Linked DNA regions of Homo sapiens: region 1 is linked to region 2. A link means that fine-mapping ties the variant in region 2 to the expression of a gene that starts in the linked region. Tissue or cell type: fibroblasts. Region 2 holds a variant in brackets; the other region holds the start of a gene. All regions are shown on one strand. Distances are between the middles of the regions.

Region 1 (8,000 bases), 42 kb before region 2:
CCCAGGCTGGAGTGCAGTGGCGTGATCTCGGCTCACTGCAACCTCCGTCTCCCGGGTTCAAGCAATTCTCCTGCCTCAGCCTCCTGAGTAGCTGAGATTACAGGCATGTACCACCATATCCAGCCAATTTTTGTATTTTTAGTAGAGATGGGGCTTTGCCATGTTGGCCAGGCTGGGCTCGAACTCCTGGCCTCAGGTGATCCGCCTGCCTCGGCCTCCCAAAGTTCTGGGATTACAGATGTGAGCCACCTTGCCTGGCGTCATTAATCTTTTATAAAAATTTTTTTTTAATTAAATGGAGACAAGGTCTTCTATGTTGGCCAGGTGGTCTTGAACTCTTGGCCTCAAGCAATCCTCCTGCCTCAGCCTCCTAAAATGCTAGGATTACAGGCATGAGCTGCCATGCTCAGCCTCATTTAATCTTATTTGTATTAATTCACAACAAATCTCAATACTCTAACAAGAGTAAAAACATTTTAAATAAAATTTTTAAAAAAAGCTTATTTCCCTAGCTAAATTTTCAAATAATTGTTAATTTAGGAATAAAACCCAGAATATCTTTTTTCCCCCTTGCTGAATATTCATATTATCTTTATTTTAAATAGACTCAATTTCAAGAGATAAATTATCCTCTGTATCTTTTTTTTTTCTTTTTTTCTTTTTTGAGATGGAGTCTTGCTCTGTCGCCAGGCTGGAGTGCAGTGGCGTGATCTCGGCTCACTGTAACCTCCACCTACCAGGTTCAAGCGATTCTCCTGTCTCAGCCTCCCAAGTAGCTGGGATTACAAGCGTGCACCACCATGCCCAGCTAATTTTTGGTGTTTTTTTTGAGACGGAGTTTCATTCTTGTTGCCCAGGCTGGAGTGCAATGGCACGATCTCGGCTCACTGCAACCTCCGCCTCCCAGGTTCAAAGGATTCTCCTGCCTCAGCCTCCCTAGTAGATGGGATTACAGGTGCCTGCCACCACGCCCAGCTAATTTTTTTGTATTTTTAGTAGAGACGGGGTTTCACCATGTTGGCCAAGCTGGTCTTGAACTCCTGACCTTAGGAGAGCCACCCTCCTCAGCCTCCCAAAGTGCTGGGATTACAGGCGTGGGCCACAATGCTCTGCCAAGACCGAGTCTTGCTGTCATCCAGGCTGGAGTGCAGTGGTACAATCTTGGCTCACTGCAGCCTCTGCCTCTCAGGTTCAAGTGATTCTCCTGCCTCTGTCTCCTGAGTAGCTGGGACTATAGGCGCGCGCCACCACGCCGGGCTTTTTGTATTTTTGGTAGAGACGGGGTTTCACCATGTTGGCCAGAATAGTCTGCATCTCCTGACCTCGTGATCTGCCTGCCTCGGCCTCCCAAAGTGCTGGGATTACAAGCGTGAGCCACCGCTCCCGGCCTTATCCCCTGTATCTTACACTTCTAGTCTGACTGGGGAGTTGAAAACATATGACTTCTCACAGATTAGTTTTTTATTTTTTATTGTAAGCATAAGTGTTTTCTTCAAAGCTGCTCTTCTTTTTCTGTCAAATGCATCTTTATATCACTAAAATGAATTTGGGTTTGGGGAAGCGCCGCCATTTTTAACTTTTTTTTTTTTTTTTTTTTTTTTTTTGAGACAGAGTTTAGCTCTTTTTGCCCAGACTGGAGTGCAATGGCGTGATCTCGGCTCACTACAACCTCCACCTCCCAGGTTCAAGTGATTCTCCTGCCTCAGCCTCCCGAGTAGCTAGGACTATAGGTGCACGCCACCACACCTGGCTAATTTTTGTATTTTTAGTAGAGATGGGGTTTCTCCACGTTGGTCAGGCTCCGGACCTCAGGTGATCCGCCCCCCTCAGCCTCCTAAAATGTTGGGATTACAGGCGTGAGCCACTGCATCTATCTGTCCTTTAACGTATTTTTAATTGAAATATTGACGAGATAAAAATAAACAACGTAAAAATCATACTGCTTAAGGGAACCTTTAAGGAGCCTTACCAACTGTGGTATAACTATTAATAGTTCAAAGAAATTACATTATCTAGGTTACTTGCAATGGAAGTTGAGTTACTCGCTTCACCTAAACAAGGAAGTTGGCATGTTTGCCTAGCAACAGTCGCTAAAACCTTCTGTTGTGGAAGGTTCCCTAGGAGTGAGAAGAAGGGAGGAGGAGGAAAAGCAGGAGGAGCAGATTAATCTGTTTTTCCTAGCAGGGTACAGAGGCCTGGTCTGAGAAGGGAAAGGCTTTAAGAGATCCCTTTAGATTGGCACATGCTAACCTAAATCCCCCTGTGGTAGCTAGAAATTCACTCTCTGTAGGACTGGGGTTACTATTTAGTAGGCTGAAAAGACGATTACAGATTAAACCCAGTTCAGAGGCAGCAAATTCCAATCAGTGGAAAGACAACAATAGGTCTTCTAAACAGAAGCTGAGATCTCAGTAGCAGGAGGGTGCTAACAACTAAAAAGAATTCTTCTCTGCCAAGAGTTTAGGAAGGTGTGTGATATTTCTTAAAAATAATACAAAAACACTATCTGTGATAGCGATTCCAATGTATCAAGTTAAAGGCAGAAGTGCTTCTCTTGGGGTACTGTGATGTAAACAGTGAAGAAAGGACAGAAAAACATAATCTCTGCTCTCTTGGTCAAATCCTGAAGCAAAAAAGGTGATAGCGCCGAGTAGAGGTATTAAATGGTTGTTTATTTGGGGACTCTCTCTCTCCTCTATTCTAGATGATTTATTTTGAAATTAGTACTGTATGGTGTTACAATAATCCCATTTCTTCCCCTTCTCAAAAGCGAGGGTTTGGCTAAAATGAATTGTCTGAAGGGACCTCCCATTCCCCAAAACCAAAACGGCACCTTTTCCACAAGGGACAAGAAACTTTTAAAGAGTCGCAAGGTTAGATTTCAGGAGCCCTTCTATGGGCCATATCTTTTCCTGTCGTCCCCAAATAGCTCTTATTGTTCACACAGCCCAGGAGAGACGTTTTGGAGTAGCGTGTCCGGGCCTTTTGGGCTGTTTCACAGCCTTAGGAGGCTGAACTCCCAGAGGGGTGACGAGGACAAAGCTGATGAGATCCAGAACCTGGATAATATGGAAGAAGAAAAATGGGGTGGGGGACAAGACGTGAAAAAGAAACAAGAGTTGGGGGACAACGGCTGAGAAAGCCGAAAGAGTAGACGTAGTGTGGGGTTCGATGGAAACGAAAGAAATTCCCCCAATTTACTCTCGCCATCTGGCCACTGGCCCGCTGAGCCCAAAGGCGCCGGTGCGGGAGGGCAGACCGGACCGAGGGACCGGTTCATCTGCTCAGGGCGTGTGAGACTTTCGGTCGCGGCGGAGAGCGTCGCCGGTCTCCCTCCGGGCGTTGGTGGCCGGTGACTCAGAGCTTTGCTCCCGCGCCCGCCCCTCCCCTCCGCCCGCCCCGCCTCCTGAGGGAGGATCCTCGCCCTCGTCTCCGCCCCAGTCTCCGGGGCGGGCCGGAGCCTGAGGAAGAGGAAGGGGACGAGGACAACGAGCGACTGGGCGGCGGAGGACGAGGAGGAGGAAGAGGAGGCCGAGCAACAAGATGGCCCCTGCTGCAGGAGCAGCCTCAGCAGCAGCAGGTGGGAGGCCGGAGGCGGTGCTGGCGGTGGCGGCGGCAGCCGTGGCCCGGCGGCCTGGGACAGAATCAGAGTCAACGGTGGCCTCGGCGGCGGCGGCGGCTGCCGCGGCGGTGGCGACGGCCGCGGGGACTCGGAGCTGAGAGGAGCTGCTGCTCGGACCAGCGCGGTGAGCGAGCGGCGGGCGGCGACTTGGGGAGCGGGGCTGCCGCGGCCGGGGCCTCAGTCGGGAACAATAGGCAGCTGTGGTCGGGAAGGGTTTGTCCTCGCCCGCCCTCTGCTCCTCCGCGGCAGCGGCAGCCCGGCCGGCCCCAGGCTCCTCAGGGCCCCCGCCGGCTGTTCTGGGGCTTGTCAGTGGCCGGCGTCCTTTAGGCCTCAGGCCTCTGCATGCCGCCTGTAGGGCCTGTCGGGGTAGGTAGGCCGAGAGGAGGACGAAGGGAGGCTCGGACGAGAGGGAGGGGGCGAAAGGGCTACCTGGCTCCTGTGGTACTCCCAGGGCCTGGGCCAGGCGGGGAATGCGCACGGGAACTGCTTTTTGGACCCCTAGTCTGTGGGGGTGGGGGAGGGCGAAGGCGTCTGTAAACAGGCGCCGCCTCGGCCTCCCAGCACCTCAGGGCTGCTTCCTCCCCCAGCCCCTGAAGCGCTCCCCTTCTTTGGCCAAGTGGATTTCACGGTGTCTGTTTCCCTGAAGTCCCTGGAGATCTAGCCTGGTAGTCTTCTCCCTGCTGGCGATGGGAAAATTGTGTGTGTGCAGGTGTCTTTAAAAAAAAAAAACAAAAAACTTAAATGCAACAAAAACATATAAAATGTGGTTATCGGTAAAGGATGGAGTGGTAAGGGATGCGCCTCTCTAAACATCTCTAAGTATCAGTTCTATAAACATCAGTTATGCCCGCATCCCAGGTGAGAGTGGATTGAAACAAGGGCTCTTTTGGAACAGTAATAACACAACTCTTGACATACCAGAATAGCCTATGAAACTGGAAACAAACACTGGCAACGCGGAGACAAACTGTAATGTTTAAAGAGGACTTTTATTCCAGCTAGGCGTTTTGAATTACTAACATGCAGTATAAGAAGCAACATTAACTAGCATAAAGTGGACCTCAGGAAGCACTTCGAAAGGAGACAGGTGGTTCATCTCCGGCCATAGAGCTTCTTGTGCCTTGTCTCGTGTTTCAGTAATTTTTCCTGAAATTGTTCAAGACCAGTCTTTTCTCTGAGTTTGAAATTTGATTTCGTTTTTGTTTTGTTTTGCGACGGAGTCTTGCTCTGTCACCCAGGCTGGATTGCAGTGGCACAATCTCGGCTCACTACAGCCTCCACCTCCCGGATTCAAGCGATTCTCCTGCCTCACCATCCGGAGTAGCTGGGATTACAGGCGCCCGCCACCATGCCCGGCTGATTTTTGTATTTTTAGTAGAGACGGGGTTTCACCATGTTGGCCAGGCTGGTCTGGAACTCCTGACCTCAAGTCATCTGCCCTCCTCCGCCTCCCAAAGTGCTTGGATTACAGGCGTGAGCCACCTCGCTCAGCCTTAAACTTAATTTTTCAAGGCTTCTACCACATTTTCTTACAAGTGAGGGAAAAGGTAGATTTATTTCTAAAGTACTTTCTACCTAGGTATGCAGAAATTTATATTAAAATCGCTTGGATACATCCAAGGAGATTGCTTTTCACTTGTTAACATTCAACTGCAAGGCCTAAGGGTTATAGGTTGTGTTCTTTTCAGCACTGACCTGTGCTGAAAAGATGCCAGTTAATATCTTTCACCTCTTCTAAGGGTAAATTTCTAAGTAGAATTGGTCCAAGTCTGTTCTAATTAAAAACATTATAAGCAGCACTAGTCTAGTTCTTAGTTCTTCCACAACAATTGACACTGAATAGATTAGCAATTGAATAAACATAAAGGTTGAATTTTCTTGTTTAGGATTTGAAGTATAGTGAATGAATATCAATACTGACCTTCATTTTATGCTTAGCATAAATAATGTTGGAGATGTTTTGATTTTTTGAATGATGGAGAAATAACAACTTTCTATGGCTCCTGATGTTGTGACTTTTTTGCAGATATTTCAGAAAGGACACCGTTTTTCAGGTGCTCAAATCTGTGATTTTTTTTTTTTTTCTGTGCTAATTTTGTTAGGTCAGCACAGATTCCAAGTAAAGTCTGTGTTATAATGATACTTAAATTTATGTATGGCCCTAAACCTATTAGAACAATTGTAGTAATTTATAGGTTGTAAGTTTTAAGTGGTTCATGTGCTGTGTTATGAAAACAATCTCACCGTGTTATGTCAAGGGCAGATTTACCTCATATTTAATATCATTTTCCTGAAAATAAATATTTTTAAGTGGTAAGGTTTTGTATTTCAGATTGGTTATTGACCCAGCAATTTATGGGCTTAGTCTGGGTCCGTATTTCTGTTCAATAGGAAAAAAATTTAGGGAATTGTTTTTATTTATTTTGTGTCAAAACAGTTTTAAGTTTTGACACAAACTCAACTGTCCCTTCTTCAGTATCAATACTTATTACTTAAGTTCACATTTTCTCAGGTAATAAAAATTTACTTCTAAGAAGTTTTGGAACCAGAGCTTAAGAATTAGATTTATATTTTCTTGGTAATATTAAAAGTTAATATATGCTTGATTTATTTGAAGAAATAAAAAAGGGTAATTTGTACACAACGCCTTTCAGAACATATTTGTTGAATGAATAAAAATATTTAAGCTTCCTCATTATGCTGCAGTATTAGTTCTGTTGTCCTCATTTTTTCATATGAAGAATGTGAAGCTAAGAGTAGCTATGTAACCAGCAAAAAGATCACATAATTAATAGGTAAAAGAGCTTACTCAGACTCAGATCTTGTGACACAAATTAGATTCTTTGCCACTACCACATGTGTCACAGTTAAACTTTGAAGCATCTTCTGTGTTGACAGATTCCTTTTTTTGCCTGTGAACTTACCCTATTATCATTATTTGTATCCTGTCAGATATCTACTTGTAAGACCAAGAAAGTATTTGTTCATGTGAATCACAAAAGAAACACTTAAATTTTTGTTTTTAGCATATCTGAATGCTATAAAATATAAAAACTCATACTGTTTACATAGGACAGATTTATCATACTGCTGTAATTGTTTTCATGGTTAATTTGTTACATAGGCAATTACTAAATTGTGCCTTTGAAATACTTTATAAATTTTTTTAAATAATTAAAGATATTCAATGATGTTAAAGTTGGGTCAGCTAATATTTGAAGTTCTTAATTTATAATTTTTTTTCTTTAAGCCATAGATAATTTAGAATTCTGCAGTATTTTTCATCTCCAGATCTTAGGGCTTGAAATGGATTCTGATGGGTCTAATCAGTCCACTCTTGCATATATCTTGAAAATGGTCAGCATCCAACAAAGTGAAGAATAAACTGATAAATGATCCCTGTTTGGTGAACACCTCAGATCAGGATGTTCCTTGGCAGGGTATTCTGACCTGGTTTAGCTTTGGCCCCGTCTGTGCTCAGGGTTCAGGTATTCTGCAGGATTGGGTTCAGAGGGATTAAAATTCTCAGATTGGCCTGTATCAAAACAGTCACAGATTTTGGTCAGCCTTTTCCCAGAACCGTCTCCAAGATTTTTTCTTTTGTGTAATTCTGGAATCTAGGCTGGATTTGGACTAGCTTTAGAGGTTATGATAAAAGATTAATTTTGTCAGGCATTTATACAAAGGAGGTTTTCTTACTACAGAGTTTCTTAAGGTAGATTCCTTCTATTTTTGAAGTGTGACATTTACCAATCTGAAGTAATGTTGCCCTACATCCCCCAGACACTTAACTTTAGCATATTTATTTCTGTCCATTTTTGGTCAGGATTGTGCCTGTTTACTTATATAATATTCTTGTTTACTTTTTGTTTATTAGATACTTCTTATTAGTTTATATTGTTTTCCTGATTGAGGCTTGGGGAAAGAATTTTCCTCAAATTTAAAGTCACCTTACTTATTTGCAGATGTATGTCAGAGCAATATTCTTTTGACAGTTATCAAGCATTTTAGCAATGCTGTATGTATATATTATGAATGAATGACAGAGTCACTCATGGTCTGTCACCCAGGCTGGAGTGCAGTGGCATTATCATAGCTCACTTCAGCCTCAAACTCCTTGGTTTAAGTGTTATTCCCGCCTTACCTGGCTACTTTTTTTAATTTTTATTATTTTTATAGAGATAGCATTTTGCTGTGTTGCCCAGGGTGGTCTCAAACTCCTGGGAGCAAGGTGATCCTCCCACTTCTGCCTCCCAAAGTGCTGAGATTACAGGCATAACAATGTTTTAAACTGACACTGGTATACCTTCACTGATTATTACTGTGCACATGTGGTAATAATTTAACTTATAAGTGCATTTTATCTAAAAAATTTCCA
Region 2 (8,255 bases):
TGATAATAGCAAATATAACTACTTACTTCAGCAGTGCTTTCCATCATTTGACAATTCTGAATGGTTTGCCTTCTATCCAGTTTTATATGCTATGCTATAGGCGGTATAATGAATACGGAAGTTGCCATTACTGCACAGAAAGGGCTTGCTATTTAATTAGGAAAATAAGGTTAACCACTGTCAAATAATATACCAGAACTCTTAGGACTTCAAGATTTACATTATAAACTAATTATCAATGTTGTCTAGTCCTTTTTTCTTTCTTCCTCTATGATTAAAATGAGTAATGGTATATTTAATGTCATAATGAATGCTAAGTGCACATGAGATAACTCATGTATACATTTGTATACTTTAAAAATGTATACTTAAGTAAGCTTTACATGTGTGGTTTTATTTGTTGCTTATTTTAAATACTCTAGTAGTCCCAGAACTAGTCACATACCCACAAGTTAACCCAACAGAAGAATTGCTCCTGGACTGTAAAATTGCATTGTGAACCTAGGAATAACTTCTTTACTCTTTTAAAGGAGTGGGTCTGAACAGCACTACTCAGAGTGTTCTGAGTCGCCCAATGCAGAGGAAGCTTGTGACTCTAGTCCACTGTCAACTAGTAGAAGAAGAAGGCAGGATTCGTGCCATGAGGGCAGCTCGATCTTTAGGTGAACGAACAGTTACAGAGCTCATTCTCCAGCACCAGAATCCTCAGCAACTCTCTTCCAATCTTTGGGCAGCAGTAAGGGCTAGGGGATGCCAGTTCCTTGGACCAGGTACATAATTAACTTTAGGTATTTATTCTGCTGGTAATTCTAAAAGTATGATGTAGGAATTATAAGTGATGTACAAAGCCTAGTTCTTTGCAGTATTTTATTGTTACCAACTAATATCTTGTTTGATGTTCATGGCTTGGGCAATTCCATGTAACTTAGTGGACTTACTAGGTGAACTTAGTGAACTTAAAACTTTTCTCTTAATGCCAAAAGTTGTTTCTTTTTTTAATTTTTTGATTTTTCCTTTTTTTCACACCTGTAGCAGGAAGTTCATTCATTTTGATAGAAGTTTTTCTTAAATTTATTAATCACTTTATCTGTTTTCTTTATAAAATATATAGAATGTAATACAAAATTGCTCACAAAAATGGTGTAAAAGTGTGTTGCTGGTTAATCTTAACTGTATTGCCAGTTAATTGAATAGCTGCAGAAATGATTAAATATTCCCCTTCTAATAAATGGATTTATCTTATCTATGTACTTGATAAATTTTGGTTTTGCCCAACTTTCCCTAGCAATGCAGGAGGAAGCTTTAAAGTTGGTTCTGCTGGCCTTAGAAGATGGTTCTGCTTTGTCAAGAAAAGTATTGGTTCTGTTTGTGGTGCAAAGATTGGAGCCACGGTTTCCTCAAGCCTCTAAAACTAGCATTGGGCATGTTGTTCAGCTCCTTTATAGAGCCTCCTGTTTCAAGGTATGAACCTACATTAAAGCTCAGCTTGAAAGGAAATATTGTTCTTTCCCCAAAGTTAAGTAGTAAAACTTTGAGTTTAATAAAGTTGCCTGTATCTTTTCAGAAAATCTCAGCAATTTTTCTTTATTCTTTTAAAGAATGTAGATGGGGTCTTATTATAGTTAAATACTATTATATTGAATTTTTGTATGTTCAATATTGAACAACATAGATCAAGTCAAGGTTTATAGATTTTTGTATTTGAAGAGACTAAGAAACTATATCAATTTCTTACCAAGACTGTGCAGAATTGGTCTGAAGAGAGAGTTATTGAAGCACAAATAAATTTTATTTATTTATTTTTATTTTTTTGAGACAAAGTCTTGCTGTCGCCCAGGCTGGAGTGCAGTGCATGATCTCGGCTCACTGCAACCTCCACCTCCTGCGTTCAAGCGATTCTCCTGTCTCAGCCTCCCGAGTAGCTGGGATTATAGGCAGGGCCACTGCACCTGGCTACTTTTTGTATTTTTGGTAGAGACGGGGTTTCGCCATGTTGGCCAGGCTGGTCTCGAACTCCTGACCTCAGGTGATCTGCCCGCCTCAGCCTCCCAAAGTGCTGGGATTACAAGCGTGAGCCACCGCGCCCAGCCAAATAAATTTTATTCAGAGATTTTCTCCTAGTGTAATTCCACATATACAATAATGAAGTTCCATTTGCCATTTCAGTTTATATGGTAATGCTGGACATAGTCTCTTATCCCAAATTGAATAAGCACCGCCTCAAACATTGCTACTCACTATGTATCATTTATTGTACATCCAGTATTATTTTTCTGACTTTTTTTTTTGAGATGCAGTCTTGCTCTGTCGCCCAGGCTGGAGTGCAGTGGTGTAGTCTTGGCTCACTGCATCCTCTGCCTTCTGGGTCAAGCAATTCTCCTGCCTCCAGCCTTCTAATCATAATCATTATGATTATTCTAGTCTAGCATCTCACACTTTACACTTTCTGGTAGTAGCCCATCCCACAAAACTCCATGAAGAATTAAGCCAAGTACAAATTAAATCATTTTTAGAATTACACCAGCATCTGAAGCTCTACAGTCATCAGTCCCACCTAGCTCATTGTCAGGCAATCCCAAGAGTCATAATCCACATTTATGGAGAAGAAACATATTGTTTTTCAGAATATAGAATTGTATTAGTATTTTTTTCTTTTCAAAAATACATATACACACACATACACCTTAAACTGAATGTATATGTTAAAGTATGTCAAATCTTTGGATTTCATTCCAGCACATACAGATTGACTATACAAAAATCCAAAATCCAAAACTTTTTGAACACCAACATGATGCTCACATGCTCATTGGGGCATTTCAGATTTTCAGAGTAAGGATGCTCAAGTGGTTTAATGCAGATATTCTAAAATTTGAAAAAATCTGAAATCTGATAACACTTCTGGCCCAAGCATTTTGGGTAAGAGATTCTCAGCCTGTATTTATTCTTTCTGAAAGACCTATCCAGAAAATGTTGGCCTAAATCCAACTTGACTCAGAATGGGATGATAGCAATATACCTACCTCAACAAGTTAAGGAGAAAATATTTTGCAGGCAAATGGTATATTCATTTAATCTTGCTGTTGATGCTAAATTTGTTACATTAAAAATTATATGTTCATATAAAGCATAAACTCATTTTTTTGACTTCATTATGAGATTATTTGTGTCTTATTAGGTCACCAAACGTGATGAAGACTCTTCTTTGATGCAGCTGAAAGAAGAATTTAGAACCTATGAAGCTCTGCGGCGAGAACATGACTCCCAGATAGTGCAGATTGCTATGGAAGCAGGCTTACGAATTGCACCGGACCAGTGGTCCTCTTTGCTTTATGGAGACCAGTCTCACAAATCTCATATGCAGTCCATTATTGACAAGGTAGGACCTTTTTTGTTCCTTACTTCTTAGACTAATCTTGGCATTTTGGTAATTCATTTAACAAATGTATATTAAAGTGAATACTGTATAGCTTTTGTAAATTGTATTTATAGCCAGTGTCATGTCATAACCAATCACGTTATAATACCACTTTGTTCATTTAAAGATTTGATTAGTTTATATTTTTTATTTTACTTATTTTATATTTTATTGTATTTTTACTAGAATCACAGAGATGAAGGCCAACTCTAGAGACCACTCTACATTTAATTTAGAGAAATAGAGTCAAATAGTAAGAGTAACCTAAAAAAAAAATAATGAACATTTACTAAAATCTTAATATGTATCTAGTGGTTTTAAATAATTCATTTAATCCTCTCAACAGCCCTGTATTATCCATTTTAGACAAAGACAAAGGGAAGTTAATATGTTTTTCCAGCATCACATAGATAATAAATGACAGAAGTGGATTTGAACTTGACCATTCTCAGTGTAGAGTACACTAACCTTTTACCAGACTATTCCCCCCCACCTTTTTTTTTTTTTTTTTTTTCCTATTTCTAAAGATAGAATTCCTTGAATGGGTAATACAGTGAGAATTGGGAAATATGTTTTTTAAATGCTTGGTGTAGGGTGGGCACAGTGGCTGATGCCTGTAATCTCAGCACTTTGAGAGGCCAAGGTGGGGGG[A/GA]TTGCTTGAGGCCAGGAGTTCAGTCACAGCCTGGGAAACATTGGGACACTCATCTCTACCAAAAAAAAAAAAAAATAGCCAGGTGTGGTGGTAGGCGCCTATAGTCTCAGCTACCTGGGAGGCTATGGTGGGAGAATCCCTTGAGCTCAGGAGTTTGAGGGTGCAGTGAGCTATGTTAGCACCTCGGCAACAGAGTGAGACCCTGTCTCTTTAGGGGGGATAAAAAGGCGGTACATAATTTTCAGTTACAATGTAGGTTGTTTGCTCTGCTCTATAAGTCTTCCCTGGATACCTTTAACCAGACTTTACCTGCAACTCTTAGGTTTGGACAGGAGCTTGTATCGGAAGTTTTGCAACTCATTTATAATTTACGGAAACGCTTAACGCTTAGTAATGATCTATTAGAGGAGTACCTTTCTACCTCTGAAGAGAAACTTGGCTTTTTTTGTTTGTTTGTTTGTTTGAGACAGAGTCTCACCCTGTCACCCAGGCTGGAGTGCAATGGCACTATCTCGGCTCACTGCAATCTCTGTCTCCCAGGTTCAAGCGATTCTCCTGCCTCAGCCTCCCAAGTAGCTGGGATTACAGGCACGCACTACCACACCCTGTACCACGCCCAAATTTTTTGTATCTTTAGTAGAGACGGGGTTTCACCATGTTGGCCAGGCTGGTTTCGAACTCCTGACATCGTCATCTGCCCACCACAGCCTCCCAAAGTGCTAGGATTACAGGCGTGAGCCACTGTGCCTGGCCTGGCTTGGCTTGTCTTTTATAAAGATTCTACAAGGTGGTTAATCTTGTCTGAACTGAACTGTGTAACTAGGTGTATATCCTACAGTAATTTTCTCATATCACACGCAGTGCTTTAAATTTAATATCCAGAGACCTTTGCACAACAAACTGGTAAACTTTGCAGTGTGTGTGATATTTTATAGAGCAATAGAACTTTCTGTAATCATGAAAATGTTCTGTGTATGCACTGTCCAATATGGTGATCACTAGTCACACACGGCCATTAAGCATTTGAAATGTGACTTTTGCAACGGATGAACTGAAATTTTTATTTCATTTAATTAACTTAAATTTAAATAGCCACATATTGCCAAGGTCACCATATTGGATAATAGAAAAGAGAATTTATTAAAAGCGATGAGGAAAGCACTAATTCTAGTAAATTAATGGGGAGAGAAACAGGAATTAACAATTCACAAAGAAGACTCATCAGTATATCTAATTGATGGTAGGCTGAATTGAGAGAGGTCTCACATTTGAAGAATGTGACAGCAGAGGCAATACAGTACACAATGTGCCAAGCTCTGGATGCAGAGAAGTACAGAATTTATTTGGGTAGCAAGTAATCTACTCTGGCCAAAGTGTAGGGTATATGGGAAGATAAAAATTAAATTTAATAAATCGCAAAAATGATTGTGATATAAATAATCTTTATATTTAAAGGATTATCTGACCTTTGGGAAAGTTAACATTTATCTTTTTTAAGTTGCAGACTCCAGCCTCTTTTGCACAGAGTGTTCAGGAACTAACAATTGCTCTCCAGCGAACTGGAGACCCAGCAAACTTGAACCGACTAAGACCCCATTTGGAGCTGTTAGCAAACATTGACCCTAGTCCAGGTAAACCCACGGGAAATTAATGGACTATCTTATATGTGCCTTTCGTGCTGCTCAATGATTCTTTAATTATCTTTTGTTGTTCCTCTAGGGTTTCCCAAAGTAGTTACTCCAGATCTTTTTTACAGTATTTTAAGTTTCCATTTTAAATCTTTTCCCTCTTTATCTCAGGTTAGTTCACTTTAATATTTATTTAATACTTTTTATACTGTTGCTCATTTCATCAGGAAAATAGATTTCTCTGGGCTTCTTTATGTTTCTTCTTTCTCCCGTCACAAAATTGTGTTGTATTTTACCATTCTTACCTCTTCCAAATCTCGTTTTTCTCATTTTTTTCTGTATTATGTATCCTTAGTTGCATTTCCTTGATCCTGTTTTTGCCCTCTCCATGATATCTTGTTCCTTCAAGTATCCTGTCTTGTATATCTTTACTTAGGCTTTTTCTGCTCCTTCTCCGTAACCTGAAAATATACCCAACCTTCATTTTTCAACTTGCACTTACATCTAAGTTATTTTAGCTTCTCTGTGTTTATTCCTACTACTGATCTGAAGCTCTCTTAATATTCACTAGTAGATTCCCAGTCTCTGATTCCAAAAGCTTTGTCTTAGTCTTTAAATCACTCCCATTTGTTTTCAGCATTTCGATAATGTTGTTGAGCACTTTTTTGATATCTTTCTGTGATCTCATAGTTCTCTTCTGACCTGAGTGCTACTTCTGTCTTATTTGTACCATGCCTTCCCCTCCTGCCCACTAAAGAGTAGGCAGGTTATGCTCTTGGAATTTTGTTTTCTCTACATGCTCTGATGGTGGTTATTCATTCTTAGCATCAGGTATTACCTTAGTGTAGAATACAGACTCCCAAATATCTCTATCACTATTATCTCTGCATCACTCCAGATACATCTCCCAGTGCTTGCTGAGATTCCCCATCGTGTCCTCTGAGTGCTTCAAAGCAAGCTCATCATTTCTTGATACTTGCTCTTCCTTTAATGTTTCCTCTTTCTGATAATGACCTCATTCTCTGAGGTATGTAAGTTTAAAACCTTAATGTTTTGTCTTGTCTCATCTTTTCCTTTCACTTGTTCTACATACTGTTTCATACAATGGGATTTATCTGTTCTTCTTTCACAATACCCCTATATCCCCTGCTTATAATTAATTCCTTTGAGAGCCTCCTTTTTCCTGAGACTGAATGTCTTCCAAGTTCCTCTACTATGAGTTCCTCCAATCCAGTCTACTTACTGCTGTAAAAGAAATCACATCCCTGGCCTGACACAGTGGCTTACGCCTGTAATCCCAGCACTTTGGGAGGCCGAGGCGGGCGGATCACGAGGTCAGGAGATCGAGACCATCCTGGCCAGCACGATGAAACCCCGTCTCTACTAAAAATACAAAAAAAATTAGCTGGGCATGGTGGCGGGCGCCTGTAGTCCCAGCTACTCGGGAGGCTGAGGCAGGAGAGTGGTGTGAACCCGGGCGGCAGAGTTTGCAGTGAGCCGAGACTGCACCACTGCACTCCAGCCTGGGCAACAGAGCGAGACTCCGTCTCAAAAAAAAAAAAAAAAAGAAATCACATCCCTGATCTTCCTTCCACACTCATAAACTTTCATTGTTTGTAGAATTGCTTACGGAATAAGGTTTGACACTCTTGACTATGGCATTCAGAGCCCTCTTAGTTTTTTATCAGCCTACTTTTATAGATTTGCTCCCAAAATTGCTTAGTAAACCAGATCAATGTTACTAGAATATATAGTGATTTTTTTCCCTGACTGCTGTCCTTTGATCATCCTGAGCAGTCAAAAGAGAACTTTCACAAGTTCCTAAACCATTTTTGACCCCATTTCTCATCTACCTACCACTTCATTTCTTTTTTTGGCACACTCTTGAACTCAACTCCAGTCAGGCATTTATCTCCACTGCTCTATCCAAACTTATTTTGTCAAGGTCATAAATTACTTCCATGTAGCTAATTCCAAAAGTCAGTTCTCAGTTCTTACTGTACTTGATTTAGCAGCATTTAACTTTTTTTTTTTTTTTGGAGATACAGTTTCACTCTGTCCCCCAGGCTGGAGGCAATGGCAAGATCTCGGTTCACTGCAACCTCTGCCTGGTTCAAGCAATTCTTGTCCCGAGTAGCTAGGATTACAGGCTTGTACCACCACATCCAGCTAATTTATTATTCTTATTATTCTTATTATTTATTTTTAGTATCTTTAGTAGAAACAGGGTTTCACCATCTTGGCCAGGCTGTTCTCAAACTCCTGAACTCAGGTGACCCGCCTGCCTCAGCCTCCCAAAGTGCTAGGATTACAGGCATGAGCCACCATGCCTGGCCATTGTTCTGTACTCTCTCTTCCTTGAAATGCTTTTTTCTTGGCTTCTAGGCTACTAATTCTCTTCTTTATTGGACTCTCCTCAGCATCCTCTGCTTTCTCATCTTCATATCCTGTACTCTTTGGAGTGTTCTCAGAGTTTAATCCTATATCTGTTTCCTAGATAATCTTATCTATCCCATAGCTTCAAATATAATTTATGTAACTCACAAATTTACTGTATT

What was found. PIP is the estimated chance that this variant, and not a neighbour inherited with it, causes the effect.
Region 1: RC3H1 starts here. The variant in region 2 is fine-mapped to the expression of RC3H1 in fibroblasts (GTEx, PIP 0.96).

What each region holds. Positions count from the first base shown.
Region 1 is chr1:174,017,842-174,025,841 of GRCh38, reverse strand. It overlaps RC3H1 (ring finger and CCCH-type domains 1), which reads left to right and starts at 3,485. Exons shown (of 20, transcript NM_172071.4): 1 at 3,485-3,746. RC3H1-DT (RC3H1 divergent transcript) reads right to left here and starts at 3,359. Exons shown (of 2, transcript NR_187284.1): 1 at 3,202-3,359; 2 at 2,652-3,059. RefSeq lists silencers at 3,250-3,499, 3,610-3,929 and enhancers at 4,136-4,675, 4,740-4,859.
Region 2 is chr1:173,975,933-173,984,187 of GRCh38, reverse strand. It overlaps RC3H1 (ring finger and CCCH-type domains 1), which reads left to right. Exons shown (of 20, transcript NM_172071.4): 4 at 531-770; 5 at 1,286-1,461; 6 at 3,179-3,379; 7 at 5,568-5,700. Among named protein-coding and RNA genes, the nearest start is that of RC3H1, 42 kb to the left of the region's middle. The variant A/GA (reference allele first, on the strand shown) is at 4,070.